Homo sapiens: one gene and its partners. The protein of the gene in region 6 interacts with the protein of the main gene of each other region in a biochemical or structural test. Each region holds a gene or a part of one and is shown on either strand. Other genes may lie near its edges. The genes, in order: SHANK1, DLG5, INTU, FRMPD2, PTPN4, MAP2K2 and LIMK2.

Region 1 (4,359 bases), about 47 Mb from region 6:
GCTTGCCTTATAGCAGGGGAAGACAGATAATGGATTATAAGGAAAATAAGCAAGAAAATTATCTAGTATGTTAGCAGTTGTACGTGCTATGGAAAACAAAAAAAAGAGTGGGCCGGGCGCAGCGGCTCACGCCTGTAATCCCAGCACTTTGGGAGGCCGAGGCAGGCAGATCACAAGGTCAGGAGATCGAGACCATCCTGGTTAACATGGTAAAATCCCATCTCTACTAAAAATACAAAAAATTAGCCGGGTGTGGTGGCGGGCACCTGTAGTCCCAGCTACTCAGGAGGCTGAGGCAGGAGAATGGCGTGAACCCGGAAGGCAGAGCTTGCAGTGAGCCGAGAACGTGCCACTGCACTCCAGCCTGGGCGACAGAGCAACCCTCTGTCTCAAAAAAAAAAAAAAAAAAAAAGAGTGAAAAAAAATAATGGAGTAAGGTAAGAGAGATAGGGAGTGCTGGGTAGGGGGCAGGGTGCAGGTTTGAGCTAAAACCTATAGATGGGCCAGGCACAGTGGCTCACACGTGTAATCCCAGCACTTTGGGAGGCCGAGGCAGGCGGATCACAAGGTCAGGAGTTCAAGACCAGCCTGACCAACATGATGAAACCCCATTTCTACTAAAAATACAAAAATTAGCCAAGCGTGGTGGCATGTGCCTGTAATCCCAGCTACTCAGGAGGCTGAGGCAGGAGAATAGCTTGAACCCGAGAGGCAGAGGTTGCAGTGAGCAAAGATCGCACCATTGCACTCCAGCCTGGGCGACAGAGCGAGACTCTGTCTCAAAAAAAAAGAAAAGAAAAAAAAACACCTAGAGATGAAGTGGGGAATCGTGAGGCTCCCTGGGGTTGAGGCATTCCAGGCAGAGCGAACTACCTCTGCAAAGGTCCTGAGGTCGGGCTGAGTCTGGTGCGTTTACAGAACAGGGAGGAGGCCTGTGTAGCAGGGGCCAAGTGAGCACTGGACATGAGGGCAGTGGGGGGACAGGGTCCCGATCCTGCAGGGTCTGGGGAGTCATGGTGAGGACTTGAACCTTTGCCCTGAGTGAGGTGAGTGAATGGCAGGGCTCTAAGCAGAGGAGGGACATGAGCTGACTTCGGTTTTAACAGAAACCCTCTGGCTGCTGTGAAGGGACTAGATTGAAGGGGATGAGCTGGGAAGCCGGGGGACCAAAGAGGAGGTGACAGCTATTGCTATCCAGATAGGAAATGATAGTGGCTGGCCCAGGGTGTTGACTCTGGAGGGGTGAGAAGGGATTGGATTCCGGATATGTTTTGAAACAACAGGATTTGCTGGTGGATTGGATGTGGGTGACTTGAGGAAGAAAGCTAAGAGTGGCTGCAAGGTTTTCAGTCTTAGCACCTGAAAGGACAGAGCTGCTGTTTGCTGCGGTGGTGGGGAGGGACCGTGGGCTGGGAGGAGTCTGTTGGTGAGGAGATCAGGAGCTTGGGTTGGAGCGTTTGGAGTCTGAGATGCCCGTGAGACAGCCAGCTGGGTGTGGGTATTTGAATATAGGGGCCCAGAGCTCAGGGCGGAGGATGGGGCCCCAGGCATAAACGTGGGCGTCGACAGCAGAAAGGCAGTGAATGAAGCTGGTCACTAGTTGAGAGGGAGTAGTCAGAGGTGAGAAGAGGTTCAAAGACCGAGCCTTGGCAGTGAAGTAAGCAAAGACTTAACTCCTGCACGCCTCCTGGAGTTGTTTTTCCCTGATTGGATTCAGCTTTCCCCAACTCCTGGCGTTCAAAGTCCACCAGTGTGAGTCTTACACTCCCACTGAGTGTGGGGTCCACCTGGCTCGCATCGTTTACCTGATTTTTTTTTTTATAGATCCAATCCCTTTTAAACTTTAGCCTCATCATAAGTGGTTCTCTCTGTAGAATCACAGCTTTGATGTGCTGGTTGCATTTCTTTCCCGCATATACGTGAAAAGAAACACGCATCTATGCATAAACACGAGGGGACTATCCCTTCCCAGCTCCAGCCACTTTTGCTGGCCCCAAACCGTTCACTGAGCCTTTGAACGGAATTAGAAAATGGCGCCCCCTCCTGGCGTGGGGAGGAAGTTCTGCTGAATTTCAGTTTCCTCACCTTCCTTGCGGTTTGCAGTTGTGCAGTGCACAACCTGTACCTCTGTATGAAGCAGATTTGGGTTTACCTCAAATAGGGAAGAGCTGGGCGAGTCCACGTGAAGTTCCTGGCATATACGGGGTGCCATTCTTGTCATTAGTATTGTTGCGGTTCTATGGGATAGTGGAGCAGGGAGACCCTCCCCGCCAGGGTCCCCCTCCTTGAGCCTCTGTATCTCCCCAGGTGCGGCAGAAGATGACAGACCTTACCTAGCACCCCCAGCCATGAAATTCAGCCGCAGCCTGTCTGTGCCTGGTTCGGAGGACATTCCCCCGCCACCCACCACGTCCCCACCGGAGCCTCCCTACAGCACACCTCCAGTCCCCTCCTCCTCAGGGCGCCTCACCCCCTCCCCTCGGGGAGGGCCCTTCAACCCTGGCTCTGGTGGCCCCCTCCCCGCCTCCTCCCCTGCATCCTTTGACGGGCCCTCCCCTCCCGACACTCGCGTGGGGAGCCGCGAGAAGAGCCTGTACCACAGTGGGCCCCTGCCCCCGGCCCACCACCACCCGCCCCACCACCACCACCACCACGCCCCGCCCCCTCAGCCCCACCACCACCACGCCCACCCCCCTCATCCTCCCGAGATGGAGACAGGCGGCTCTCCCGACGACCCTCCACCCCGCCTGGCTCTGGGGCCCCAGCCCAGCCTGCGAGGCTGGAGGGGCGGCGGGCCCAGCCCGACCCCGGGGGCCCCGTCCCCATCGCACCACGGCAGCGCGGGCGGGGGCGGCGGCTCCTCCCAGGGCCCGGCTCTACGCTATTTCCAGCTGCCCCCGCGGGCGGCCAGCGCAGCCATGTACGTGCCCGCCCGCTCGGGCCGCGGCCGCAAGGGCCCGCTGGTCAAGCAGACCAAGGTGGAAGGCGAGCCCCAGAAGGGCGGCGGCCTCCCGCCCGCGCCGTCGCCCACGTCCCCGGCCTCCCCGCAGCCGCCGCCCGCCGTGGCCGCGCCCTCGGAGAAGAACTCCATCCCCATCCCCACCATCATCATCAAGGCCCCGTCCACCAGTAGCAGCGGCCGCAGCAGCCAGGGCAGCAGCACCGAGGCGGAGCCCCCCACCCAGCCGGAGCCCACGGGAGGCGGCGGCGGCGGCGGCTCCTCGCCCAGCCCCGCCCCGGCCATGTCACCCGTGCCCCCGTCCCCCTCGCCCGTGCCCACCCCCGCCTCGCCCAGCGGCCCGGCCACGCTGGACTTCACGAGCCAGTTCGGGGCCGCCCTGGTGGGGGCGGCCCGGAGGGAGGGGGGCTGGCAGAATGAGGCGCGCCGGCGCTCCACGCTGTTCCTGTCCACCGACGCGGGGGACGAGGACGGCGGGGACGGCGGGCTGGGCACAGGGGCGGCCCCGGGCCCGCGGCTGCGCCACTCCAAATCCATCGACGAGGGCATGTTCTCCGCCGAGCCCTACCTCCGACTGGAGTCTGCGGGCAGCGGCGCGGGCTACGGCGGCTACGGGGCCGGTAGCCGAGCCTACGGGGGTGGCGGGGGCAGCAGCGCCTTCACCAGCTTCCTGCCCCCGCGACCCCTGGTGCACCCGCTGACCGGCAAGGCCCTGGATCCCGCCTCCCCGCTGGGGCTGGCCCTGGCCGCCCGCGAGCGAGCGCTGAAGGAGTCCTCGGAGGGCGGCGGGGCCCCCCAGCCGCCTCCCAGGCCCCCATCGCCCCGCTACGAGGCCCCGCCGCCCACCCCGCACCACCACTCGCCCCACGCCCACCACGAGCCAGTGCTGCGTCTCTGGGGGGCCTCCCCGCCGGACCCTGCGCGCCGGGAGCTGGGGTACAGGGCCGGGCTGGGCAGCCAGGAGAAGTCCCTTCCCGCCAGCCCGCCCGCCGCCCGGCGTTCCCTGCTACACCGCCTGCCGCCCACCGCTCCCGGGGTGGGGCCCCTCCTGCTGCAGCTGGGGACGGAGCCCCCGGCCCCGCACCCCGGAGTAAGCAAGCCCTGGAGGTCCGCAGCCCCCGAAGAACCCGAGCGGCTGCCGCTGCACGTGCGGTTCCTTGAAAACTGCCAGCCCCGGGCCCCTGTGACGAGCGGAAGGGGTCCCCCCTCGGAGGACGGGCCGGGGGTCCCGCCGCCCAGCCCACGCCGGTCCGTGCCCCCCTCCCCGACCTCCCCGAGGGCCAGCGAAGAGAACGGGCTGCCCCTGCTGGTCCTGCCGCCTCCCGCCCCCTCGGTGGATGTGGAAGATGGCGAATTCCTTTTCGTGGAACCGCTGCCTCCGCCTCTGGAATTCTCCAACA
Region 2 (4,359 bases), on a different chromosome or scaffold from region 6:
ACCGTGGGCGGTGATATCCCTGTGTACATCTGGGGCTTGCTCAAGCCTTCCTCCTCTCCCACAGCCTCTGCCACCATGAGGTCACCACTTAGGAATCTGCATGTATATTTGAAGATGATCTGGACAAGGATACATCATTCACTCTACACACAGCTGACTATTCATTCGTTCAACAAAAAATTATCGAACACCTATCTTGTACTAGGCTCTATTCTGGGCATGAGGACTATAACAGCAAATTCAGCTCAGGGAGGACAGCTCTGACACCTGCTTGGCATAGTATACAAGGAGCTCCCACAGAACCCTCAGAAACACCAGGAGATTCCCAGTTTTCTGGTTCTAAGGCTAGTTGCTGTCTACTACTGCCACTGTTGTGCTATATTACTCAGGGTAACAAAATGCTCTTCCATTTTTCCTACCATGGATTGTCAAATAGCACAGTGAAGTAGTTAGTGTTTTAATTACTTTGTAGAGGAGATAAGCTCAGAAGGGTTAAAAACCTTGCTCAAGGTCTAAAACCTTGTAAGGTCTGATCATTACTACCTAGACCCACCATCCCACTCCAGCAATGACCGCCTGTGCTAACTGTATTATCGCACAAAGGTGGTAATGCTTGGAGTGGACATTCATCTGCTCTTTTACCTGCGTGACATCGCTGCTGCTTGTCTTCCTTTAGACAACTGCTCTGCCTCCCTCTAAAAACCCACATAGTGTTGGAATGGGCTGCCAATCACAGTAGCCCATCACCTTACCCTGGGGTTCCACTGCTGGGCACAGTGCCAAAGCTGAGCCAGTCTTAGTCCTCTAGCCCTGGCCACAGTGACCGGGCCTCATGTGGACACATAACACTGGCCAGACCAATCAGAATCCTACCATGAGGTTTGTCTGCCTGGGCTGATTGGATAGAGCTCCCTTTCTTCCCTGGTCAGGGGCTGTGAACCTGAACAGAGGGGCCTGAGGTCATGTTCAGACCCGTGGGAAAAGCCCACAGCATCGATCCAAGAGGTCAAACGTCCCAAAGGCCAGTTTCCACCATCCATCCAAAGGTTGTGGAATATTCTAAGTCAATACATTTCTCTTTTTCTACCTAAGATGATCTGAGCTAAGTTTCTGTCATTTTGCAATAAAGGTACCCTGAAATGATACACAGATAAAATCTGCCCTTCACTTAAAAACCTCTTCTCAACCATTAATTTCAAATGACTCTGCCACTTCCTCTTAAATAACACAATTAAAACCACCTAAATTAGCCATGCAGGGTGGCATGCGCCTGTAATCTTAGCTACTAAGGAGGCTGAGGCAGGAGGATGGCTTGAGCCCAGGAGTTTGAGGCTGCAGTGAGCTATGATTGCACCACTGCACTCCACTGTCTCTAAAAAATAAGTAAATAAACAAACAAAAGAACCAAAAGAAAAACCACAACAGCTGGAGCTTTTACTTATGTCCCTTGCCCTGCTGACCCTCCAGGGCAGAGGGGATGAAGAAAAGGTGGCTGGTACCCGAAGGAAGTGGAGAGAGAACAAAAGGCCAGGCAACCTCTGCTGAATAATAAATAACCCACACCTGACAATCAGCACCCATCTGCATTAGTCCCACTAGAAAAGCCTGGCAGGGTTATTCCCTTGGGGAAAAAAAACAAACTTCCAGCTCTAATTTCTGACAGTGTACAATGCCTAAATTCAAACCTCCCACTCAGCCTAGCCATTAAGGTCCTCCAGATTACCTCTGCATCCCCAATTCCCTTCCACCCAGAGCCAAGGCCAAACCCCTGCTCTGCTCAGGCTGGGTAAACACATGGCTCCTCTCTATGGCTCAGCCTGTGCGGTCCAGCCTACGCAGCCCACACGTCCTCCCTCCATGGCTCCATGCATTCAGAGCTTCACTTCAACACCAAGTCCCAGCACATTCGTGAAGCTCTCCTCGGCTTCTCCAGCGGACGCTGCTGGCTCCATTCTCTTAAGTTTGATGAAGCAAGCCAGCCAGTTCACTAGGAAAGTAAAGAGGAGGCACAGGAGGTGTGGGGAGTGGGAACGAGAAGGAAACATCAGGCAATGAGCACGCGAGAGGTCCAGCCAAGTTCTGCCATTTCTGCCTCCCAATAGAGGCCTGGTGGGAATGACTTGAGGAGTCCCACATTTAGATGGTAATGAGAGCCACTAAAGGTGAATGAGAGTATCTGGGGAAAGTGTGTAGCATACCGAGTTTTTTATAAAAGAAAAAGCCTGTTTGTGCATCTCTATCAGTTGACCTGTCTCATAATGTCACTCTCATGAGCGTCCCATTCCCCCAACAAGGCGGCAAGCTACGGACTAGAATTACATCCTGTGCACCCCGGCCCCTGTCTACACCCCAGCCCCACCTGGGCCAGGCACTTCAATGCTCCCGGTGACAGAGGCAGGCAGTGCAGCACCATTAGCCCCATCTTACAGATGAAGATACTGAGGCTCACCCCAGGGGCAGGGAGTTGAGAATCCTCAAGGGAAAAAACTCAGGTGTTTCCCCAAATCAAAGGGAAAAAACAAAGGACTGCATGGGGCTCCAAGTGACCAAGCTAGACTTGGTTACTGGGAAAAACAAGAGACCCAACTGAGCCACTCAGAAGTAAACAATTCTGTCTTCTCCCTACCACCAGCTGGGGCAAAGGTGTTCGCTTGTTCCCCGCAGATCCATGTATCAAATCCGGGACAAAAGAAAGCTACATAATTTCAGAGTCCCACAGTGACTGGAAATGTCCTGAAATTGTAGTGGGAAGGCCTAACCAGGGAACAGGAAAAACCACCCCAGACAAGGAATCAGGGGCACTGGGCTTGGCCTTGACTCAGGCACCTTTCTGCCCTGCGACTTCTTCCTTACAGACAGGGCCCTGGAACCAAAGATCATAAGACACCACTCATCTCCCTGGGGCTGCCACAGAGTTAATGAGATATGAAGATAGGACACAAAATCCTGAATGACAATGCCCTATCAATACCGGAATAAGAGCCACACCTCCAACAAAAAAACCACAACACAGTGTGTCTCCTAGTCACTCCACACCCCCAGGCCTGAGCGTGGTAGGTTTAAATGTCTGGGGATCTAACTCAGCAAGAGTTGCCCCGATGGGTTGGGTTTGCTCACCTGCCCACCAACACCCAGGCACATGTCCTCCCCAGTTTCCTTCCAGTTCCAGGCCCCACGTGGTAGGCTGCTGCCGATGCAGACTCCCTCAGCACCCAAGTGCCAGTGGGGGATGGGCATTCTGGATCAGGAGCCCACACAGGGTGTGGAATCCATCAAGGAAGCTCCTAGGTGGGTGATGGCATCATCTCCAACAGAGAATCGGTGCCAAAGCAGCCACCCCTTGACGCTAAGGATCCCAGGGAGCCAGCTGGTTCCTCTCTCAGGCTCCGCAATGGCCTCGAACTGAGGCCAATTCAAACCCAGAGCTGCTGCCCAGAGCACAGAGTGGAAATCACTCAGGAGTGGAAGGAGGCAGGACCAAGTGCTGGGTTTTCCTGACTATGGCTCCTCAAGGAAGAAGACTTCCATTCCTTCAGCCAGAGCCGCTCTCTTATGCACTGAGCTTTGACCATAAGGAATACTTCCTGGCTAAAAGAAAAAAAAGCAAAAAAGTGGAGACCTACAACACAGCAATTTACCCTTCACAAAGGAGCCTCCCCTGCGCCGGGGCAGTGGCTCACGCCTGTAATCCCAACACTTTTGGGAGGCTGAGGCAAGCAGATCGCTTGAGCTCAGGAGTTCGAGACCATCCTAGACAACATGGAGAAATGCCATCTCTACACAATATACAAAAATTAGCTGGTGTGGTGGCATGTGCCTGTGGTCCCAGCTACTTGCGGGGCTGAGGCAGGAGGATGGCTTGAGACCAGGAGGCGGAGGCTGCAGTGAGCCGAGATTGTGCCACTGCACTCCAGCCTGGGTGACACAGTGAGACCCTGTCTCAAAAAAACAAAAGCCCCCAACACGCCACTGTTTGCTGACACACCATGTCACCCTCTTCCCCAGGGGCTTCAGGTGGCATCTTGCCATACCAAATGCTGTCCTAACTTTTTTCTTTCTTTTTTTTTGAGAAGGAGTCTTGCTCTGTCACCTAGGCTGGAATCCAAGGGCACCATGTCAACTCACTGTAACCTCCACTTCCCAGATTCAAGTGATTCTCCTGCCTCAGCCTCCCAAGTAGCTGGGACTACAGGCGCCCACAACCACGCCCAGTTAATTTTTGTATTTTTATTAGAGACGGGGTTTCACCATGTTGGCCAGGCTGGTCTCGAACTCCTGGCCTTAAGAGATCTGCCCGCCTCGGCCTCCCAAAGTGCTGGGATTACAGGCATGAGCCACCACACCCAACCAGCGTTTTTC
Region 3 (4,359 bases), on a different chromosome or scaffold from region 6:
CGTGCAGTTCCTGGATGGGATCTTGCTCCACCCTGTTTGCTTGCTCTCCGTGGGTCATGCCAGCCACCTAGCAGTCCCAATAAGAGAACTTCAGTATCTCAACTGAAGATGCAGAGTTGACTCACAGTTTTCTTCCTTCTTGGTGGGAGCTGCAGAGCAGAGCTGCCTCTCTTTGACCATCTGGGCTCTCTGTTCTACTTTTTTTTTTTTTTTTTTTGCCTCTTGCATGTTGGTCACCTCCTAAATTAGTAATGTCCAAGTACTTATTCCTTATCAGATACTTTTCGTTAATTTAACTATCCTAGTACATACCTCACTGTGGGGAAAGGGGGAAAGATGAAAATTAAACTTACTTTTTATTTATTTGATTCTCTTTAAGTTTCAGGTAAGCTCAATTTTGACTAGGATATATATATGTGTGTGTGTGTATATATATGTATTTTTTAAACTATTTGTCAACTTTATTTTTTTTTGTTTGTTTTTGTTAAAATACATTCAGCGGCTGGGCTTAGTGGCTCACGCCTGTAATCTCAACACTTTGGGAGGCTGAGGCAGGTGGATCACTTGAGTCCAGGAGTTCAAGACCAGCCTGAGCAACATAGCAAAAACTCCATCTCTACAAAAACACCAAAATTAGCCGGGTGTGGTAGCACTCTCTTTTAACAGTCCCAGATACCTGGGAGGCTGAGGTGGGAAGATCACCTGAGCTCAGTCGGTTGAGGCTGCAGTGAGCTATGATCATGCCACTGCACTCTAGCCTGGGCAACACAGTGAGACCCTGTCTCAAAAAAAAAAATCACATTCAAGTATATTTCACATGCATTTTATATAATTCATGAATTTCAGGAAAGCTGCATGTAAATCTTTTTTTAAAGCTAAATCATGTTAAAGACACTGAAAAAGTTAACTAAAATTCTATGGTGACTTCTTTTATAAAATACTAATTTTTGGCCGGGCACGGTGGTGGCTCACGCCTGTAATCCCAGCACTTTGGGAGGCCGAGGCAGGTGGATCATGAGGTCAGGAATTCGAGACCAGCCTGACCAACATGGTGAAACCCCATCTCTACTAAAAATACAAAAATTAGCTGGGCGTGGTGGTGTGCACCTGTAATCCTAGCTACCTAGGAGGCTGAGGCAGGAGAATCGCTTGAACCCAGGAAGCAGAGGTTGCAGTGAGCCAAGATCACACCACCGCACTTCTGCCTGTGGAACAGAATGAGACTCCGTCTCAAAAAAAAAAAAAAAAATACTAACTTTTATCTTAGAAATATAGATCATTATGCATTGGGTTTTTTCAAAGGGGGAACACTTTAGTGAACAATAGTTTACTTGACCTTTAGTTGGAAAAGAAAACTAATGGTGGAGAATTTTCTTTGGCTGGGAGAATTTGGTAGATTGAGAGAAAGGAAGAACATCAATACTGCATTTTTACTTGACATTTACCCTGTAGATCCTCCTAGAGGTTCGATGCCCCCAAGACATTCCAACACTGAGCTGTTTCTTCTCCAGGTCTTAAGCTTTGAATACAAGCTATACCAGCACATCTAAAATCGGTCTCTACATTTTTCCATCTTAAATATGAGCTGTCCAGCTTAGTCAAAACTAACTGCAAAACACTGGGTGTACCATTTGAGTCATTTGGTCTTAAAAGAAACACTATTATCACTGTGTCACAGTTTGAGAGATTTTCACTTAAGCATTTAAGTTGCAAACCACTACATATTTGTCCCATTAGTGACTAGTGGGCCTTAATTTTGGCATTCAAATTAGGGTAAAAAACCTTGGTTCTTGAAATGCTACAGAAAATAGCTTGAGGCCAGGCACAGTTGCTCACACCTGTAACTCCAGCACTTTGGAAGGCTGAGGCAGGCAGATCACTTGAGGTCAGGCGTTTGAGACCAGGCTGGTCAACATGGTGAAACCCTGTCTCTACTAAAAATACTAAAAAAAAAAAAAAAAAAAAAAAAATTAGCCGGGCATGGTGGCAGGTGCCTGAAGTCCCAGCTACTTGGGAGGCTGAGGCAGGAGAATCACTTGAACCCAGGAAGCAGAGGCTGCAGTGAGCCTAGCTCGTGCCACTGCCACTCCAGCCTGGGCAACAGAACGAGGCTCTGTTTAAAAAACAAAAAAGCTTGAAATACCTTCCCCTTAAGATCACAATATTGTCATATGCTACCATTTGACTCACAACTGCTGTCTTAGGACTGCTTATTTACATATATATGTATTAAGACACTTTGGTTAAAACAATTTATTAAATGTCTTAAATTTCTGGATATGTCCCTGAAAATACCATGAACTACTTCTAATACTGATAATTATGAATAAACGTAGCTGTTGATCACCTCAGGTTTTCATACAAACTGAACTAAGGTAGGGTTTTATCATAGGGGACTTTTTGTTTCATTTAATGAAATTTTGATGTGTTGAACTGCTTTCCTGGTGTCAGAGAAACATGAGACCATCGCTCAATAATGGAAATAAAAAGGCAGAGCAGACTACTGATCTTAATAAAAGGAAAATTATTTGCTGTATCGTAGATGTGCACTGTAATTTCCATGTTAAAGAGGCACTGCATTTTTAAGAAATAAAATCACACATCTTATTTTTTCATTTCTAAATGGATATTGAACTAAGCTCTGAAGGCAAACTTAGCTGCCTATTTTTCCAAATATGTTCAGAATCACATCTGAAACATCAAACTGATTATCAGACAATAAAGTGCCTGTTACTTTATTAAATAAAGGGGGACAGGATGACAGTGCAGATATCCTAGAAATATGCTTTAGAAGACATAGAAACGTTGTTAAATTGGATTTTATTAGTATGCAAATGTTCCCTTCCACCAACAACTATTAATGTGAAAAACTATATATAGCTAGCATTTTTTAAAATATCAAATACTGTCTCATTATCATATGTTTAGCCCCCCCAAAATTACATTTTAGACTCTTACTTTCTCTCCCTCTCCCCTTTCTTTAGCTCTTGTTTGTGTCTTGCCAAAGAAGTGTACCTAGTAAGGGAATGTTTCTTATTTGTGCCAAGGGACTATTGATGATGCTGTATAATGGCAAGATAGCATTTTGTAATACCTGCTTTTTTATATTTCTAATACAAATGGGCAAAGCTGTGAAACCAATTTACTAGGTTTTTCTGCTTTGGACATAATTGTATGTGTTAATTCTCTCTAAACAGTGCCTGGCACATATTACATGCTATAAAAGTGTTAGCTACTACTGCTACCATTTATTATTATCATTATTAAATATCCATTGGTTGAAAAACCAAGTAGTCAGCTAAATCATACCTGCTACTGTACAAAATGTAGGGGAAAAGCTGAGAAAAATCATTTATCAATAAACAGTTTTCAGAACAAGAATTTATACTTTGGATATTTTTAAATTGTTAAATGTTATTGAAACTTTATGCACCAAAACTGTATGAAATAATTTAATTTTGCAGTTGTGTTTCTATATTCTATGTAATTAAAGCTACTTTTATACTATATTGATAGTTTTAAATAAAACTGGTTTGGAGGTTTGTTTGCAGTTGTATTGCCTTTTTCATGCATTCATCCAACATGTATTTATTGCATTTCTACCCTGTGCCAAGCGCTGATGTGGAGGCAGAGGCTATAGCAATGAATAAAACAGCTAAAAATTCCTGCCCTCATGGAGTTTATGTTCCAATGGGAGAGGCATACCACAGACAAGATAAATAAGTAAAATATGTAAATGCTGAGAGAAAAAATCGTAAAGCAAGAGAAGGGGATGTAAGATGTGGCAGACAGGGTGACCAAGGAAAGGGATGCTGAGCTGACTGCAGACCTGAAGTGAGGAAACTAATCATGCTGATTTCTCCGGAGAGCAAAGTGAACAGAACAAAGATCCAGAAACTCTACTTTTAATGTTAACATAAATCACTAGAATTTTTTTCCTTCCCTAATCAGTAAGTAAAATCAATGCAGTAAATTACTCAGTTTCAGCTCCGACCTATTGAAGAGTTGATTTAGTGCTTTTAATAAGGTTAAAAAGCTACTGGGCGCGGTGACTCACTACTGTAATCCCAGCACTTTGAAAGGCTGAGGCGGAAGAACTGCTTGAGTCCATGAGTTCAAGACAAGCTTGGGCTTGTCTTGATATGGAGACCCCATCTCCACAAAAAATTTTTAAAATTAGCTGGATATGGTGGTCTTTGCCTGTAGTCCTAGCTACTTGGGAGGCTGAGGTGGGAGAATTACATGAGCCCAGGAGTTCAAGGCTTCAGTGTGCCATGATCTTGCCACTGCATTCCAGTCTGGGTGCAGAGTGAGACCCTGTCTCAACAAAAAGTTTTTTAAAAGGTTAACAAAGCTACA
Region 4 (4,359 bases), on a different chromosome or scaffold from region 6:
CTTAAGAGGCTCCCCTGTTTTCAGGAGTACATGATTACTGTGAGGTACTAGACCTTGAAGTCCACGTAGGTCTTCTATATTGCTTTCCTCATGGTGTTGGCTTGCAAAGAAGCAGTGTAGTGGCACAAATTAATAAGCTTTGCAATTTCAGGGGCAGAATGGGCGTTACCATGCTTGTCTTGCTGAAAGGGAGTAACCTACTCTAATTTTGTTAGACACGGCTGGATACAACCAGTCTTTTTTTTTCTGTCAACTCTCCTTGCATGGCAGGGAGGACCTTTTTATTGCCACCCAAAGTCCTTGTTGATAGGGTCGGCTCCAGGATTTCTATATTTTGTATAGAATCCTATACAAAATTTCTATATTTTGTATAGGTATAGCAATCAGCTGGGGAGGAGACAAGCACTGTTCTTTGTTAATCTTTTGTTTTGGGTTTAGGGCTACATGTGTAGGTTTGTTATTACAGGCAAACTCGTGTCACAGGGGTTGCTATACAGACCATTTCATCACCTAGGTGCTCAGCATAGTGCCCAATAGTTATTTTTCCTGATCCTCTCTCTCCTCCCATCCTCCTCCCTCAAGTAGGCTCTGGTGTGTGTTGTTCCCCTCTTTGTGATCATGGGTTCTCATTATTTAGCTCCCACTTGTAAATGAGAACATGCGGTATTTGATTTTCCTTTTTTTTTTTTGAGATGGAGTCTCACTCTTTCACCCAGGATGGAGTGCAATGGCACGATCTTGGCTTTCTGCAGGCTCCACCTCCTGGGTTCAAGCAATTCTCCTGCCTCAGCCTCCTGAGTAGCTGGGATTACAGGCACGCGCTGCCACACCCGGCTAATTTTTGTATTTTTTAGTAGAGACGGGGTTTCAATATGTTGGCCAGGCTGGTCTGGAACTCCTGAACTCAAGTGATCTGCCCGCCTCAGCCTCCCAAAGTGCTGGGATTACAGGCATGAGCCACTGCACCTGGCCTTTTCTTAAAGCTGAATTTTCGTGGCAAGCTCGCTCTTCTTACTTGATGTGCATGTTCCTGATCAACCTAAAGAGTAAAGTACTTTTTGATGATGCTTTTCTTCATCCTTTAGATAAGAATGAGAGAGCAACAACTGCCTATATTAAAGGAAAATACTATTGTTTTTATCGGGACCAAGCTTGAGGAGCCTGGAGGAAGTAATGGGAGTAGGCTAACATCCCTTCTCCCTAGTTTCCTGAGACCAATGCTGCTTTTTGGTTGGGTGATCCTGTAAACTAACAGCAGACCGCCTGCAAATTCAGGCTCATGATTGCTTCTTCACACTTGAGGGGTGTTGTACAGTTTTCCCTTGTATACAGGAGAACTTCCTGTCACACCAGCCAGCATTTTCTAGGTACTAAATGCAGGCACTGCATTTGCCTTGCCTTCTGAACACTTCTGCATGCATGCTCTCTCACTCTTGTACCTGTACACAGTGCCATGCAGCTCCCCTGTCCAGAAGCTATGGGTGGTGGAAGGTGGCCATGCTGGGGTCTCAGCCCCACACCCTTCATCCTGGGGTTGAAGCCTTCTCAGGGACTGGCCTCAGTACATCTCCAATGCCAGTCTCTGGCTTGCTGTCTGTTGGATTTCCCAGCACCACTGCTCTCCTTTCTGCAGTGGTTCAGCAATCCCTGTGTTTTCTTCCACATCCTCCACTGACAGGAGCAGTCAAACCATCCCATGTGTTGTCAGGAAACACAATGCAGGTGACCAAATCACAATTCAGCATAGTCCAAGGATGGCCTGCTGTGATGGAGGTTGTCAAAAAGCAGTACTCGAGGTCTGCTATTCTCAAACCACAACCTCACATTAGAATTCCAGACAATGAGTTTCCCACAATGGCTGGGAATAAAATGTCCTTTCACTGTGGCACCCCAGCCACCTTTTGGCAATGCTGCCTTCATCATGGTGGGGTTTCCTCATAGCTGGGCCACTGCCAGAGGAAGATGTTTCCTTGGTGATGCTGGCTGGGTCTCCGTGGCAGAGACTTGACTACCATGACTTTCTTCTATCTCTTTAGGCTGCTGTTAAGGCAGCTGGGCTAGATTGGAGATCAGGATCAGACAGATAAAATGTCCATCATGAGCATCTGTCATGGTCTACAATAAATTGAGTTTCCTTTACCAAAAAAGGTCTCCCAGCTCATATGTCTACTAGGCAGGACACCAGTTGCAGCATGGTTTGACTTTTCATTTCAATCGTAAGTCCCATCCTCACCTCTCATGGAGGATGTGGAAGAGAATGAGCCGATGCTTATGACACTGCCAGAAGGACAATGATGACAGAATCTGTGAATGAAAGGGCCAGAAATACAGCATTATGAAACAGTGGCCCTGCCACTCCCTGCTGGATACCTTTAGATTTGAATAACTTCAAATCAAATTCATTAAATCAGATTTATTTAAATTGAATTCATTCAGCATGTGAGTTTGGGCACTTCCCTGAGTGTTAATGAGTCTGTATCAAAAGTAGTAAATCTACTTGTATCCAGGTCTAAAGAAAATCTAACTGTTATTCATTCCTCCCACATATATTTGTGGAGCAGCTAATAATAACATGTTAACAGTAGATACATTTATTGAGGCTCTACCATGTACTAAGCTGTGCGTGTCTGTGTGTGTGTGTGTGTGTGTGTGTATGAGAGCCATATATATATATATATATATGAGGGAATATATATTCTTTCATATATACATATATATTTTTATCTTTCTTAACATATGTAAAATCTTTTCTGTACGTATAATCTCTAAGCCTCACCAACTCTACAATATTATTGATATTGATATTATCTCTACTTTAGATACAGGAAAATTTAGGTTCAGTTATGTTAAGCACCTTGCCCAAGGTTTTTCTACTGATTCACAACCTCACGTTCTTTTCTTTGTTCTATGCCAGGTCACGAGTCAGACACAGGGTGAGCAGGAATCAGTGGCCTAGCTTTCACTCACAGGGGCCTGCAGTTTGGTTATTACCAAGCCTCCCAAAAGGACCTGATACGTTGGTTTTTGGATCACATGGTGGCTGCAGATGTGCTCAGTGGGGTGTCCAGGAGAGGCTGGGTTTAAGACAGTTCCCACATGCTGGCTGTAGCATTTGGGGCAGGACACTTAATAGCTTTGACTCTGTTTTCTCATGTTTGAACTGGGATTACACCTTCCTGGTGGGTTTGCTGAGAAGATGGGAAGATGTCCATATCTTCCTATATGTATATCTAAGGTGCCCATCACATGGCTAGAGCTTAATAAGGGATAGCTGGCCTTATGAACTTCTTTTGAGCCTACGCATTCATAGTTGGGTCACGTAAGCTCTATCTAGGTTTCTAAATCCCATGTAGAATCTTCCCTTTCTCTAATCTAAATGTAACATCTTTCAGGAGGAGCTAAATTCATATTGTACCCGAGCAGCTATAAACGATCACTCTGTCACTGGAGGAAAACGCTGTGCCCACATAGAGATGCCACCAAGAAACCGGCCTTTTTAAGCTGTTGACTTTTTCTTGGCTTGTTTTTATAGGTGTTGGTGGAAATAACCCAGATGAAGAAAAGAATAGCACAGCCAATTCTGGGGTCTCCTCTACAGACATCCTGAGCTTCGGGTACCAGGGAAGTTTGTTGTCACACACACAAGACCAGGACAGAAATACTGAAGAACTAGACATGGCTGGGGTGCAGAGCTTAGTGCCCAGGCTGAGACATCAGCTTTCCTTTCTGCCGTTAAAGGTAATCATCCCTTGGTTTACTTTCTAGATCTGGATGAAAGAGAACAGACTGTGAAGCCCAACAGCCTGGCCCCTAGGCCCTTCCTGTTCTCTGTTTTCCATGTCAGGTGGATGGAAGTTACTTAGCCCCTTTGAGCCACAGCTTCCTCATTTGCATACAGAAGCAAATGCCTGCATGGCATGGTTGTTGAGAAAAACGCATAGAAGAAGGCAGAGTTCTAGGACAGTGTCTGGGCACAGGCTCAGTGTGGGTGCCTCTGGAGTCTTTAGTCACTAATTATAATTGTTGTGATAATAGCACCATGAGGAAATTGATTGCTGCCAATGGCAAGGCGTGGGCAACCAGGCACCTCCTATTCTTGTCCTTGAATTGGTCCTCAAGCTGGGAACTCAGTGGCTTTGCTCTTGACCATACCCCATGGAGGAAGAAGATGGGATCTGGAGTAGGTGTATGGAGGGCTGTGTGCTTCAGTCCCAGCTCTGCTGTCCTCTGCCGTCTCTTTGGATTCCCAGTGGTGTTGTCTTCTCAGGCCCCGCCAGACCCATGCCCCAGCCTCTCCATTCTGCTCTGGGCCCTGCACAGCTGGTGCTCATGGACTGAGTCACCTTGCTGTGTTCTGCT
Region 5 (4,359 bases), on a different chromosome or scaffold from region 6:
TTGGCTTTGAATAGCATTTGTGGCTTATCCCAACGTGCTAAGAAATTATTATTTTCTTTGTTGCCAAGTTGGGAAAAGGATTGGGAAAACCACTGTTTTAGAGACTGTAAGTATTAGAAAGTTTATGGTTCCTACTCACCCTTGGCATCCACTATGGAATCAGAAATAAATATCAAATCCTAAAGTAAGCTTAAGGTAAACTTAAGAATTCTTAAGTCACCTTCCTCTTTCTCTCTCTTTTTCCCTCCCTTTACCCGCTGCCTCCCCCATTTCACTGGTGTATGCGCATGTGCGCGCGTGTGTGTGTGTGTGTGTGTGTGTGTGTGTGTGTCTGTGTGTGTGTGTGTGTGTGTGTGTGAAATATCTCTTTGGTGCCCTTGCGTTACTGGTGCCCTAAACATGCATTTAGTCTGCCTCTTGGGAAATCAGCATTAACATTCAGGAACAATTTAGAGGTATTTAAATAAGGGATGATAAGATTAGATGCAGGTTTTGAAAGGTAACTCCTGACTTCTAGATAATGATGCAAAGTTACAAGGATAATGCAAGGATGAGGTTAGAAATGGAGCAGAGAGACCAGATGCTGTTGCAGTGGTCCAGGGGAGGGATGATAGGAACCAGAAATAGGGCAATATAGATATGAGATTAGAACTGAAAACTGAGTAGTTTCACTAGACCTGAGAGTCCATTTGGACATGGGGGGAAAGAGTTGAAGATGATGCTAGGATTTCTTCTTTGGCAGCTTCCCTTCTTTAGCAAGGGAAGGCCAGATTATTTTTATTGAGCACTTCCAGTGAGCCAGGTATTTTGCTAGACAGCGAAGTTGTCACGAGTTCTCATTTAACATTTTGAAATAATTTCAAACCTAATGAGAAATCTCAAGAAAAGTACAACAAAGAGCTCCTGAATCGCCTTAAACTAATTTTTAACATTGTACTAGCTATGTACCGTGTGTATACACAGCTCAAGATGAGCCTGGAACACCTCGTGCTTGGCTCAGTAAGGCCTTTTCCAGATGCCCCAAGTGGTCACCTTGGAATTGTGTTTAGCCCTTTCCCTTTTTCTACTGTATCTAATTGGATCCTCAAATTTCAGTGAAACAACCTCATCATCTCTCATTTCTGGTCCTACATTTTAATCCTTATTTCTCCATTTCAGGGGAATGCACCATTTCTAATTTCATTTGGCTTTTTTCCTGAATTATTTGAGAGCAAGTTGCAGACATGATCCCTATCACTACTAAATATTTTAGTGTGTATTTAGCAAAACAGGACAATCTCCTACATAACCGCCAAATCAGGAAATCAACGTTGATATAACACTACCTTCAGGTCGAACCTAGATGCCATTCAAATTTTTCCAACTATCCCAGTAGTATCTCTCTTTTCTTTTTGGTCCAGCATCCAATTCAGGTTCACACATTGCATTTAATTGTCACATCTTTTAGTTTCCATCAGTTTGGAATGATTCCTCAATATTTCCCTGTCCTTTATGACCTTGACAGTTTTAATGAGCAGAGTCCTTTTTTTCTGTTACATGTTTTCCTCAACTTAAGTTCATCCAGTGGTTCCTCATGTGCAGACCGAGTGCATTGTTGGCAGGAATGCCATAGAAATAATGTCGTGATATTCTTAGTACATCACTAAGAGACGTGCTGTATAGTCCTGCTACTAGCGATGTTTAACTTTGAACACCTGTTAAATTCAAGTCTGCTGGGTTTCTCTACTGTGAAGTTATCGTTTTTTTCCTTTTGTAATTGGGAATTCTTATGTGAGAAGATATCTGGGAGTGTGTCAATAGAGCTGAAGGCTGTAACCACGAGCCTTCAGGTCTGATGATTGCTACCTGAATCAGCCACAACTGTGAAAGTTGTCACCTACATTTATTAGTTCATATTCTACTGAAAGAAGATTTTCTCCTTCTTCTCCATACATTTATTTATTCATTCATTTATATCAATATATACTCCTGGATTTGTTTCTGTTTAGTGGTTTATATTAGTTACTGTCATTTTAAAATTTCATTTTGTTGGTCAAATTGTCCCAAATTTGGCCTTTAAGTTGGCTCCTCTATCTCCTTGACCTGTCCCCCTCCTTGGTGTATTTCCTTACTTTCTGGCCTAACAAGATGTTCCAGATGATCTTAATACTCTCCTATCCCAGCTCTGAAATCATTTATTTTTCCAAGGAATCCTGATTTTATTTTACTTTTTTAAGTAGAGATGCTATTTAGGAACTGAGATCCGAGTGTTCAGTGTGTTCATTTCTGCTGGCATGTCATCACTTTTAGGGGGATAGAGCTAGGAAATACATATATGTATACACACATCTGAATCTGTTTCTATGCCTATGTACAGGTATTTTATAAGTTCACACTGATACAACCAATTCCAATCTAACATCTCAGGATTCGTCTAGCCTTTTCCCTTTCTGTATTTGTAAATCTCTTCTCCAGCAGTGATAAATTGGTTCCTATTATCTCCTCAGTGTATTTACTTATTTGCTCAATCCCCTTGTATGTGCCAGTCTTCCGACCCCGCATTAGTTGTCTCCTTTCTCCTTGCTTGCCGCCTCTGAGGCCTGTGGCATGGGGTCCTCAGAGCTTGCTGTCAGGTCCATGTAGGAAAGAGAACTTCTCATTTAATCTTTTTCCCCTCATTTAATCAGGACAGAAATTTGTTAGAAAGGTGCTATTCCCAGTTTTAAAAGGAGAACAGAGCTGAAATTCAAAAAGGTCTGTGTCTTTAGGCATGTTACTGTGTAAATAGCTGAGTAAATATTTTGCATTCAGATTCGTCTGATACTGAAGCATCTTTTCTCTCCTGTACTGCATAGCCTCTGAGTATCTGTGGAATCCAAAGTGGCAGGATTTAAGGTTGTATAGATGGTAGCTGAAGCAATGGGTGGGACTGTCACTGCTTATGAAGTATATATAAAGTTAGGAAGAGGCACACTGACAGAGCTCCTAACTACCATCACTGAAAGATTAAGGGCTCTCCGAAATCAAGAAGCCAGTGAAGAAGACTGAAAGAAAGGTTGTGAGAGAGGAGTGTGGTTGTGTGTTAGATGATGGTGAAGTAAGGAATTTCATGAAGCTGCCATGTTGCTGAGAGAAAAAGAGAAGACCAAGAGGCTTTGAATTTGACTGTTGGAAAGTTATTGATAATCTCAGCTAGTTGGTTTTCCAGTGTGTTCAGGCGAGCTGCCTGTATCAGAATTATGGAGATACTAATGAAAAATATGAACTCCCCAGGTCTCATCTCAGACCTTATAGATTCTTAAAAGGGGGAGTGGGGAGCCAGGAAGTGGTAGCCTGGGAAAATCTGCTGAAATGCTAAGGTTCTTCTGAGGTGTACTAGTTTGAGGTTTGTTGCTTTAGCAGAAGAGTTATAGTGGAAGAGTGTAATAAACTAAATTGAGGAAACCAAGTGTACAATGAATATAGATGAGACAGCTCTTCGAGAAGTTTGCCATAGAGGTAAAAGATCTCAGGTCATGGAAGAATAGGGGACAGCATCAAGAAAAATACCTTTGCGTTTCAAGGGTTACATACACCTTAACATTTGTTGGGATTAAGAGAAGGAAACTGTAATGGTTATTTTAAAGTTGGGTAAGCAAAACTAATTAGCAACACCTACTATCAAAAAAATGCCCTGAGTGAACTTTGATATGTATCTGGGATAGCTGCCTGCTCCCATTTTAAATGCCATCTTTTGGTAGGTCTTTGGAGTAATCCAAGGGTCATTGTTTATTTTGTTTTTAGTTAAATTTGTATCTTGTGTTTTTGTTATACAGTTGTGTAAAGAGCTTCTCTTTGCTCATTTTTATACAAACACGAATTCTAAGTATATTCTTGTATATAGACGAGTCACTAGCAATACAATTAAAAATTACGTCCAAAATTGGAGGTGACTTTAGAGGGAAATCCAATCCAGGGCTAATTTAATGTATTCTTTGAGCACCAGCTAGGTACTAGGCACTGTGCTTGGCTGTGGGGATACAGAATTGAATAAGACATGCTCTTTATCATCAAGATTATTGTTCTTTCTTCAGAGGAACTTGAAATCTAGTGTATAGCTAGAAATGGTACAGATAAGTCATAGATAACTATGTTAGTCTACAGTAAAATAAGTACAGATAAGTCAATGTTTAATTAATACAGCAGTGTATATTACCATAATTCTCAGACTTGTCATTTTAAAATTGTATTTAAATTGTATTTTCGTATTTGAATTGGCAATATGGCTACATGGTTCAAGTTTCAAAATAATATAAAAAGGCATATAATGAGAAGTCTTGATACCACTCCTTCTCTTTCCTGTTCTGTATAGGTAACTACTTTTATTTTTTGTATATTCTA
Region 6 (4,359 bases):
TATTTTTTATTTGTTAATTTACTAATCTTTTGTAGACACGGGGTCTCGCTGTATTGCCCAGGCTGCTCATGAACTCCTGGACTCAAGTGACCTTCTTTCCTCAGCCTCCCAAAGTGCTGGGATTCCACTAGCAGTGAGCCTGAGCCACCACGCCCGGCCAGATCTCCCCTTCCTGTTGGAATTCTCTCTTAGGTTTTTGTCTCTAGCAGTGCCTACCAGGTTTCTTTCTTTTTTTTTTTTTTTTTTTTTTTTTTGAGACAGAGTCTTGCTCTGTCACCCAGGCTGGAGTGCAATGGCACAATCTTGGCTCATTGCAACCTCCGCCTCCCACCCGGGAGCAATTCTCCTGCCTCAGCCTTCCAAGCAGCTGGGGCTACAGGCATGTGCCACCACAGCTGGGTAATTTGGTTTTTGTTTTTGTTGTTGTTGTTGTTTTTTGAGACACAGTCTCACACTCTCACCCAGGCTGGAGTGCAGTGGCGCCATCTCCGCTCACTGCAAGCTCCGCCTCCCGGATTCACACCATTCTCCTGCCTCAGCCTCCCGAGTAGCTGGGACTACAGGCGCTCGCCACCACGCCCGGCTAATTTTTTGTGTTTTTAGTAGAGACAGGGTTTCACCATGTCAGCCAGGATGGTCTCAATCTGACCTTGTGATCCGCCCGCCTCGGCCTCCCAAAGTGCTGGGATTACAGGCGTGAGCCACCGTGCCCGGCAGCCTTGGCTAACTTTTAAAAAAATGTTTTTAGTAGAGATGGGGTCTCGCCATATTGGCTAGCCTAGTCTTAACTCCTGGGCTTCCACCTCAACCTCCCAAAGTGCTGGGATTACAGGCATGGGCCACTGCACCCGGCCCTTAGTTAATTTCTGGACCAAGGAATTGGAATCTGGGGTCTTTCAGGAAACGACTGGGGATTCAGCAACCTGCCAAATTGAGCCTTGGAGCAGCCTCTGAGATGTTAGCTGTGGAGGAGGAGGCCCCTGCTTCCTGGGGCCCATCATCCATTCCCAAAAGTGCTGAGCATTGCAGGCTCTTCAAGAGCTGCGGTCAACACCAGCTCCAGGCCTCGGGCTGGAAGCCTCTTCAGCAAGTGCCGCAGGGAGGCCCTGGGTGGGTGAGCCGGGAGGTAGAATTGCGTAACAGCTCTCTATCCATTGCTGCGGTCATTAGCCATGGAGAGGGTGACGGGGGCTGTAACGGGGCAAGCCTCCCGGGTTCCAGCTGCCATCCTCGCCCCTCTGGGCTCTTTCCTCCCTGGCTCTGCTGCAGCCGGAGCGGTTGCAGGGCACACATTACTCGGTGCAGTCGGACATCTGGAGCATGGGCCTGTCCCTGGTGGAGCTGGCCGTCGGAAGGTACCCCATCCCCCCGCCCGACGCCAAAGAGCTGGAGGCCATCTTTGGCCGGCCCGTGGTCGACGGGGAAGAAGGAGAGCCTCACAGCATCTCGCCTCGGCCGAGGCCCCCCGGGCGCCCCGTCAGCGGTACGGCCTGAATCTGCAACTTCCGGTCTGGACGCGCAGTGCCCTGCGCGGGGCCTGCTGTGCCAGGGTCAGCAGCTGCCTCCCCTCTGCCCCTGGCGCACCACCTGTCCCCCTGGATGGTGCCGACTGTGGTCAGCAGTCCTCCCATGGTCCTGGGGTTTCCGGGGACAGAGCTGGAAGCAGTGAGCACCCCAAACCTGTTCTGTCCGGGGCAGCTGCACCTGTTGTTGCCAGCTGGAGGGATCTGGGAGCGCAGCTTTGCCACCAAGCCCCTGGGCAGTTGGATTTTCCAACATTTTATCCCGAAAGCATTCAAACGCACAGAAAAGTGGAAGGAATTGGCCGCCACAGAGCCTGCATTCTGCAGGTGACACGCTCCTGTGCTGCGGGCCAAGCCTTCCAGGGAGTCCTGAAGTGGAGATTGGACTTGGCATGGCCCTCAGTGGCCTGTTGGCTCCGGCCCCAACACACACAGGAGGGGACACAGCCCGGGAGGGGGCGGGAGGGCTCAGGCCCCAGGGACAGCTGGGCTCGCAGAGGACAATCCGGCACTTAGGGCGGGCACCTCGGGAGCGGGAGCTCCCTGACGCCAGTCAGAGAGGGCCGAGCGGACACTTCCACCGCCTGAGGGAAGAGCCGGGGGCGGACCCTGCTTGGTGCAGAATCACAGGAGGGTCCTGTGATTTTTTTTAAAGTCAGACATCAGGGAGAGTTGGTGGCGTCAGACCCCAAAGGACCCTGTAGCGGACTGTGGTTGGTTTTAAAACCATGTTTCCGAACTACAAAGCACACACCCCACAACTCATTTCAGGTGAGCAGTTCAGTGGTTTTCAGTCACAGTGCTGCGCCCCATCACCTCTAATTCCAGAACCTTCTCAGCTCCCCAAGAGGAAACCCTGTCCCCATCAGCTGTCACTCTCCATCCCCTTCCTGCCTCTGGACTGGCCTGTCCTGGGCATTTCACAGAAATGGGGTCACACACTTGTGTGGCCTTCTGTGTTTTGTGTGTGGCTTCTCTCCTGGAGCGCAGTGTCCTCAAGGGTCATCCACGCCATGGTGCGTGTCAGAGCCTGGGTCCTTTTGAAAGGCTGAGTAGTATTTTATGACACGAACAGGCCACGTTTTGTGGTCCTACCCGGATGGATTGGGGCTGTGAGAAGGAGATTTTCATAGCACTGGCAAGCCCACCTCCTCCTCTCCAGCCAGACTGCTGGGATGTCTTGATCTCATCCCAGGGAGAGGCCCCCAAGTCCTTATCCTCAGGCCTAGCCTCAGCCTCTCCCAGTCCCAACTCTCAGGTGGTATACCATCCCCAGCCCAGGGCCCCAGCCCACCTGCCCATTTCAGGACGGGCAGAAGGCGAAAGTCCAGCTGCCAAGCCCAGGCCTGGCCAGCTGGTTCTCAGACAGGGGTCAGCCACCCCTAGCCAGTCTCCCGTCCTGAGTGGCACTTGGGGCCTGCCCCCATCACCGCCAGCAGCTCCATGCAAGGTCACGCGGCTGTCCTTGCCTGCGGTCAGCACCGTCCCTCCCCCTGCCCTCCAGAGAGGAGGGGTGATGACTTTGGCACGTCCGGCAAGCCTCACCGAGCCAAATGTGTGACTTCTCAAAAAATGTTCTTGTTCCTTTTGCCTTTTTTTTAATTCACTAGAGGCTCAGGCAAGGAGTAGCTGTCCCAGGGAATGGAACCCAGAGTCAGGCAGGGGAGCTTTGTCCAGTGCCTCTGCACACCCGCCTCCAATTTAGGCTGGCATGTGGAGGAGGGCGCCTGGTGGTGATCAGCCCCCTGGGAGCCCAACCCCCAGCAGAAGTGAGGTGGCCATCGGCCCATCTCACCTCCATCTCTCTCCCTGTGCAGGTCACGGGATGGATAGCCGGCCTGCCATGGCCATCTTTGAACTCCTGGACTATATTGTGAACGAGGTTTGTGCTTGATGCCTTTTGGCTTTTCTTTTCCTTTTCTTTCTTCTTTCTTTTTTTTTTTTTTTTTTTTTTTAGGCAGAGTCTCTCTCTGACCAGAGCAAGAGTCACCAAGGCTGGAGTACAGTGGTGCCTTCTCGGCTCACTGAAACCTCCACTTTCCAAGCTCATGTGATTCTCGTGCCTCAGCCTCCCGAGTAGCTGGGATTACAGGTGCGCACCACCACACCCAGCTAATTTTTTTTTTTTTTTTTGAGACATTGTCTAGCTTTGTAGTGCAGTGGCTTGATCTCAGCTCACTGCAACCTCCGCCTCCCAGGTTCAAGCAATTCTTGAACCAATTCCACGTGTGTCGCGTCTCCCATCTTCTACTGTGCTGCACAAGCCCAGCTCCTTCCCAAGGGCATTGTTTTTTTATGAAGACGAACCCAGAATTCCCACCGCAGCCTCTCACCCTGAGTCCAGAGGGAGGTGTGTGCCAGCAGCCCTGGGCTCAGGCCGAGGAGCCAGCCTGCCCCTTGAGCAGTGGCCCAGTGTCTCTGCATCAGAGCGTCCTGGCGCCCGTGGGCGTGGACTCATAAATCACCCCGCTTCCACGGAGAAAGGTACAGGAATGGCCCTTGCCTCTTGGAAGGAGGCCCAGAGAGCCTAGAAGGACCTGTAGGTCCCGGGGTGGCTCCTGCTCCGTCAGTCCCCATAACAACCCAGTGAGCCACAGTATGAGGGTTTCCACCGCCCAGATGAGTAAAACAAGGCACAAGGAGGGACGCGGCCTCCTTCCAGGCCTGCAGCTGTCAGGGAGGCACAGGACTGCACCCCAAGGTCCTGTTGGCCACGTGACCAGGCCGGGCCACCTCCCTGGGCCTTCTGTGGGTTTCTGTGTCTTTGGTGGCCCTTTGGAGCTGGGGCAGAGAAACGGGCATTTGAGCTGCCTGCAGACTGGGCTAGGCCTGGGGT
Region 7 (4,359 bases), on a different chromosome or scaffold from region 6:
AGGCCATCTCAGGCTACAGTTTGCCTCTCCAGTTTGCCTTGTCCGTGCCCTGTTTGCCTTTAGAGATGTGTAATTCTTTGAAAACAGGGCTGTGAACTGAGAACAGTTGGCTGGGGTCAGTTTCAGTGACACAGACAAACTCAATGAATAGCTGCTGACCCAGCCCACACAAGTTGCATAGGAAGGGGTCTCTACCTTCCAGTGAAGCCCACAATTCTCACACCTCTCCCTACTCTCGCCCTGCTGGCAGGTTTGTTGGTGGGACTCACCATTCCGGAGGCGATTCCTTTGGCAAACCTGACCTTCTGCTGCCAGGGGAACGGATCCTGCAGAATGGGGAATGATTTTCAGAGGCTGTTGAGCCCTGTCCCACTCGTGGTCCAGGCCCCATGGGTCAATGTGGTCTCCCAGTGAAGCCTCCCTGTGTATGCTCAGTCCCACCCAGCATGGTCCTTTGGAGGCAAAGCAGGGCCCCTCTGCCCTTTAAGCTCCTAGGGTAGTGATAGCATAGGTGTCTGACAACCCACCAAGGCTCCTGGAGACTATGGGGTGGTGTGCTCACCATACTGCGCAGAAAGTCCTTCAGTGTGCCCCCCTCAATGTACTCTGTCAGGAGGTTCAGCTTCTTATCCTTGTACAGCACACCAATGAACTTGAGCACATTGGGGTGGTCCAGGCTGCGCATCACTTTCACCTGGGGGTGGGGGAAGCCAAGGAAAGCTGGTGGTTAACTTCTCACTGTCTTCCTTACCTCTTCCCTCCAAGGAATCAGCTTGACAAGTGTTACCACCTGTATCTCCTACCTCCTATCTTGTGATATGACAGGGCACTAAGATCAGGATGAGGGAAGACCACCACCATATAGATGGAGATGGCTTCATAGGCCTTACCCTTGGAACTGCATTGGGAGAACTGGGGTGGGAGTGGCCAAGTGGCTTGGAGGGCAATACCCAGACCACAGGTGTCCCCAACTTAAGTTACTCCATGAAGTAACTTGGGAGGGGTAGTGAAAACTGTAAATGCCCAAGGAGTGTGAGTGCTCAGGGAGCTCCCCTCCAGGCTCCCTTAGCAGGGCGTTCAGGTGAGGATTATAACATTGAGTTGTACTAAATTGGAGTGTTTTCATGTCCATCATCCTCATAACCTGAGAGCTCTTCTGAACCCTGTATCTTTTGTTACTGCATCCCTTGTACCCTGTTTGTGTTGCTTTTAGTAAGTGTTCATTGAACAAATAATTACGCTGTAATTTAGAGGGAGTGGGATATTCCTCTAGGGCTCTTTTCTGCTTAGTCTTTAAGACAGTAATTCCAAACTGTATTTTCTCTTGAAGCCATTATTTGTAAGGTCTTCTCTCTTCCAATGGTGACACCAACCTCCCGGGCCCCCTCCATCTTCTTACCTCAGTCAGAAAAGTTTTCTGGGTCTCCTCATCACATCGAATTAACTCTTTCATGACCATCACTTTGCCCGTGGCTTTGTGTGTCACCTACAGGGAGGGTGACTGTTAATGGTGCTGAGACCAGAGGAAGTTCTGGAGAACTGTTTGAGAAAATCTATGCAGCTGGCCATCCCATCCCTTGGAGGGCACACTGAGCCGGGTCAGAATGACAGAGTTCATGTGTGGAAGATGCAGCGTGGAGCAACATGGGACTCACACGGAAGCAAACCCTCTTTCCTGGAGAGCTGGGCATGCACAGAGGACAGGCAAGAACCCAGAAAAGGGAAGTGGGGAAGAAGGCAGGAGGGGATGCTGCCAAGCCAAGCAGGGGCTCTGGTCATTTGGCATAGAAGTGAGTCTCCTGAGTGAACAGAAGTCTGGGGGCAGGAAGGTCAGTGCCAAAGACATGCACCAGGGAGCTGGGTGGATCGGGGGTGAGCTCTCCAGCCCTGCTGCCCCCAAGCTGAGACACACGTCTTACCTGACCCCCCCTCCCAGTTCTCAGCAGAAGAGGAGGAGGAGGAGAGAAAGAGAGAGGTTAGTCCCTGAGACTGTTCACCAGGGAGGCAGGAGCCATTCCCCTGTGTGCTCCTTGTAGCATGCCCGGTACTGAGGTCTGCAGGCACCTAACAAACACCCACTGACTGGAGGCAGGAGGGCCACAGGCACAGCTCAACCCAACCTGGATCTCCAGGTCCACAAGCTCACTGTAACAGCAACATTGACCTTAGGTGGCCTGGGTGGGGGTGAAGGATACCTCTCACACCAACACCCAAAGCCAGGAAGGAGGCCTGGCATCCTGCATGGTGTGGGGTGGGGCCAAGTGATGAGAAATCCCCGAAAGACAGTGACAGAGGGACTGGGGGCAGAAGAGCAAAGCAATTGTTGCCTGCGCTCACCTTGATAGCCTGCCCAAAGAAGCCCTTCCCCAGGACCTCCCCATGGATTAGGTCACAGGGCCGGAAGATCTGCTGTGAATAGCTGCTGGAACAACGAAGGGATTCTGAGCGGCTGATGTCACGGCTGAACAGCAGGGGCTCCTTTGGGGAGCTGGGGCCAGGGGACTTGGAGATACTGTTACTGCGCCTGAAGATGAGGAAAGACGGGAGTAGGGATGTGTAGTCCTCAGAGACCGGCCAAGAAACCCTGGAGGGAGGAAACTTAGGGGCACCTGTTCATTCCAATGTCTATAGTTTAGATGTTATTATTGGGGAACAGGGGCTCTTACATCAGATGTATCATTTTGGGGTTGCTGACATCAGTCATTTATTTAAGCATAGTAAAAACACATTCAAAATGGGAACTCTGCATACATCACACATAGAACAATTAACTAGATTCTACTAGCTGATAATGCTCAGTATGTGACATATATGACAACACTGTAGATGGTAATTCACCATCTCCCATATCTGCTTGATTTAAGTACTAACTGGTTTAGAGTGATAGTTATACTAGTATCCAAAAAATGAGCAAATGGGATTTTTTTTTTTTGAGACAGAGTCTCGCTCTGTCAACCAGGCTGGAGTGCAGTGGTGTGATCTTGGCTCACTGCAACCTCTGTCTCCCTAGTTCACCTGAGTCTCATGCCTCCGCCTCCTGAGTAACTGGGACTACAGGCATGTGCCACCAGGCCCGGCTAGTTATTGTTATTATTATTATTTTTGAGACAGAGTCTCGCTCTGTCGCCCAGGCTGAAGTGCAATGGCACGATCTCGGCTCACTGCGACCTCCGCCTTCCAGGTTCAAGCGATTCTCCTGCCTCAGCCTCCCAAGTAGCTGGGAGTATAGGTGCACGCCACCACGCCCGGCTAATTTTTTTTTTTTTTTTTTTTTTTTTGATGGAGTCTCACTCTGTCGCCCAGGCTGGAGTGCAACGGCGGGATCTCCACTCACTGCAACCTCTGCCTCCCAGGTTCAAGAGATTCTCCTGCCTCAGCCTCCCAAGTAGCTGGGATTACAGGCGTGTGCCACCACAACCGAATAATTTTTGTATTTTTTTAGTAGAGATGGGGTTTCACCATGTTGGCTAGGTTGGTCTCGAACTCCTGATCTCGCGATCCATCTGTCTCGGCCTCCCTAAGTGCTGGGATTACAGGCGTGAGCCACCACACCCGGCCCTAATTTTTGTATTTTTAGTAGAGATGGGGTTTCACCATATTGGCCAGGCTAGTCTCAAACTCCTGACCTTGTGATTCGCCCACCTCGGCCTCCCAAAGTGCTGGGATTATAGGCGTGAGCCACTGCGCCCAGCCTAATTATTGTATTTTTAGTAGAGATAGGGTTTCACCATGTTGGCCAGGCTGGTCTCAAACTCCTGACCTCAAGTGATTTGCCCGCCTCGGCCTCCCAATGTGCTGGGATTACAGGCGTGAGCCACCGTGCCTGGCCAGCAAATGGGATTTTGGATGATATTTTGCACATCTTTGTACCTGTCCATGTTTCCTGAATTTTAAGATGATAAACACGTATGATTTTTACAGCAATAAAGTCACTATGTTTACATTTTCAAAAGCGGTCGATAATAGTCATGGTCAATGACTGTTATTTTCACTTACTGAAGAAGGAACAAGAAGGTTGAAGTCCACAGCACTGCAGGTGAACAGCCCTGCGAACTTTCTCTCTGGGGTATGCTCCTGCTTTACTTGGGCTACCCAGAGAGGACTGACGCTGGATGGCTCTTGGCTTGTCCCGACCTACAGGTTTACTTACCCTTGTCCTTTTGCTCTGCCTCCTGCTGACCATGCCCACCAGAGCACACAAGGCTAGCTGCCCCCCTCCTCTGCATGGTGGCTCTACAGATACCTGGCCACTCCCAAATCTTCCCTTTTCCAGGCCATGGATTTCTAGCTCTTCCCTGCCCTCTGTTGCCCTGCCTCCCACTAATTTCATCATACTGACCAAGGCCAAGAGGCAATGGG

Evidence for each region.
Region 1: the proteins of MAP2K2 (region 6) and SHANK1 interact in a test that uses a peptide from one of them, tested with the Homo sapiens proteins (one large-scale study listed by IntAct).
Region 2: the proteins of MAP2K2 (region 6) and DLG5 interact in a test that uses a peptide from one of them, tested with the Homo sapiens proteins (one large-scale study listed by IntAct).
Region 3: the proteins of MAP2K2 (region 6) and INTU interact in a test that uses a peptide from one of them, tested with the Homo sapiens proteins (one large-scale study listed by IntAct).
Region 4: the proteins of MAP2K2 (region 6) and FRMPD2 interact in a test that uses a peptide from one of them, tested with the Homo sapiens proteins (one large-scale study listed by IntAct).
Region 5: the proteins of MAP2K2 (region 6) and PTPN4 interact in a test that uses a peptide from one of them, tested with the Homo sapiens proteins (one large-scale study listed by IntAct).
Region 7: the proteins of MAP2K2 (region 6) and LIMK2 interact in a test that uses a peptide from one of them, tested with the Homo sapiens proteins (one large-scale study listed by IntAct).

The regions. Positions count from the first base shown.
Region 1 is NC_000019.10:50,667,234-50,671,592, reverse strand, and holds part of SHANK1 (SH3 and multiple ankyrin repeat domains protein 1), read left to right. Parts: intron 1-2,307; coding exon 2,308-4,359. UniProt on the Homo sapiens protein: Seems to be an adapter protein in the postsynaptic density (PSD) of excitatory synapses that interconnects receptors of the postsynaptic membrane including NMDA-type and metabotropic glutamate receptors via complexes with GKAP/PSD-95 and Homer, respectively, and the actin-based cytoskeleton.
Region 2 is NC_000010.11:77,919,816-77,924,174, forward strand, and holds part of DLG5 (disks large homolog 5), read right to left. Parts: intron 1-4,359. UniProt on the Homo sapiens protein: Acts as a regulator of the Hippo signaling pathway.
Region 3 is NC_000004.12:127,723,188-127,727,546, forward strand, and holds the end of INTU (protein inturned), read left to right. Parts: 3' UTR 1-3,550; downstream 3,551-4,359. UniProt on the Homo sapiens protein: Plays a key role in ciliogenesis and embryonic development.
Region 4 is NC_000010.11:48,180,182-48,184,540, reverse strand, and holds part of FRMPD2 (FERM and PDZ domain-containing protein 2), read left to right. Parts: intron 1-3,532; coding exon 3,533-3,738; intron 3,739-4,359.
Region 5 is NC_000002.12:119,766,153-119,770,511, forward strand, and holds part of PTPN4 (tyrosine-protein phosphatase non-receptor type 4), read left to right. Parts: intron 1-4,359. UniProt on the Homo sapiens protein: Phosphatase that plays a role in immunity, learning, synaptic plasticity or cell homeostasis. Regulates neuronal cell homeostasis by protecting neurons against apoptosis.
Region 6 is NC_000019.10:4,096,325-4,100,683, reverse strand, and holds part of MAP2K2 (dual specificity mitogen-activated protein kinase kinase 2), read left to right. Parts: intron 1-1,269; coding exon 1,270-1,483; intron 1,484-3,340; coding exon 3,341-3,405; intron 3,406-4,359. UniProt on the Homo sapiens protein: Catalyzes the concomitant phosphorylation of a threonine and a tyrosine residue in a Thr-Glu-Tyr sequence located in MAP kinases. Activates the ERK1 and ERK2 MAP kinases.
Region 7 is NC_000022.11:31,264,111-31,268,469, reverse strand, and holds part of LIMK2 (LIM domain kinase 2), read right to left. Parts: intron 2,525-4,359; coding exon 2,338-2,524; intron 1,487-2,337; coding exon 1,400-1,486; intron 695-1,399; coding exon 563-694; intron 327-562; coding exon 270-326; intron 1-269. UniProt on the Homo sapiens protein: Serine/threonine-protein kinase that plays an essential role in the regulation of actin filament dynamics. Acts downstream of several Rho family GTPase signal transduction pathways.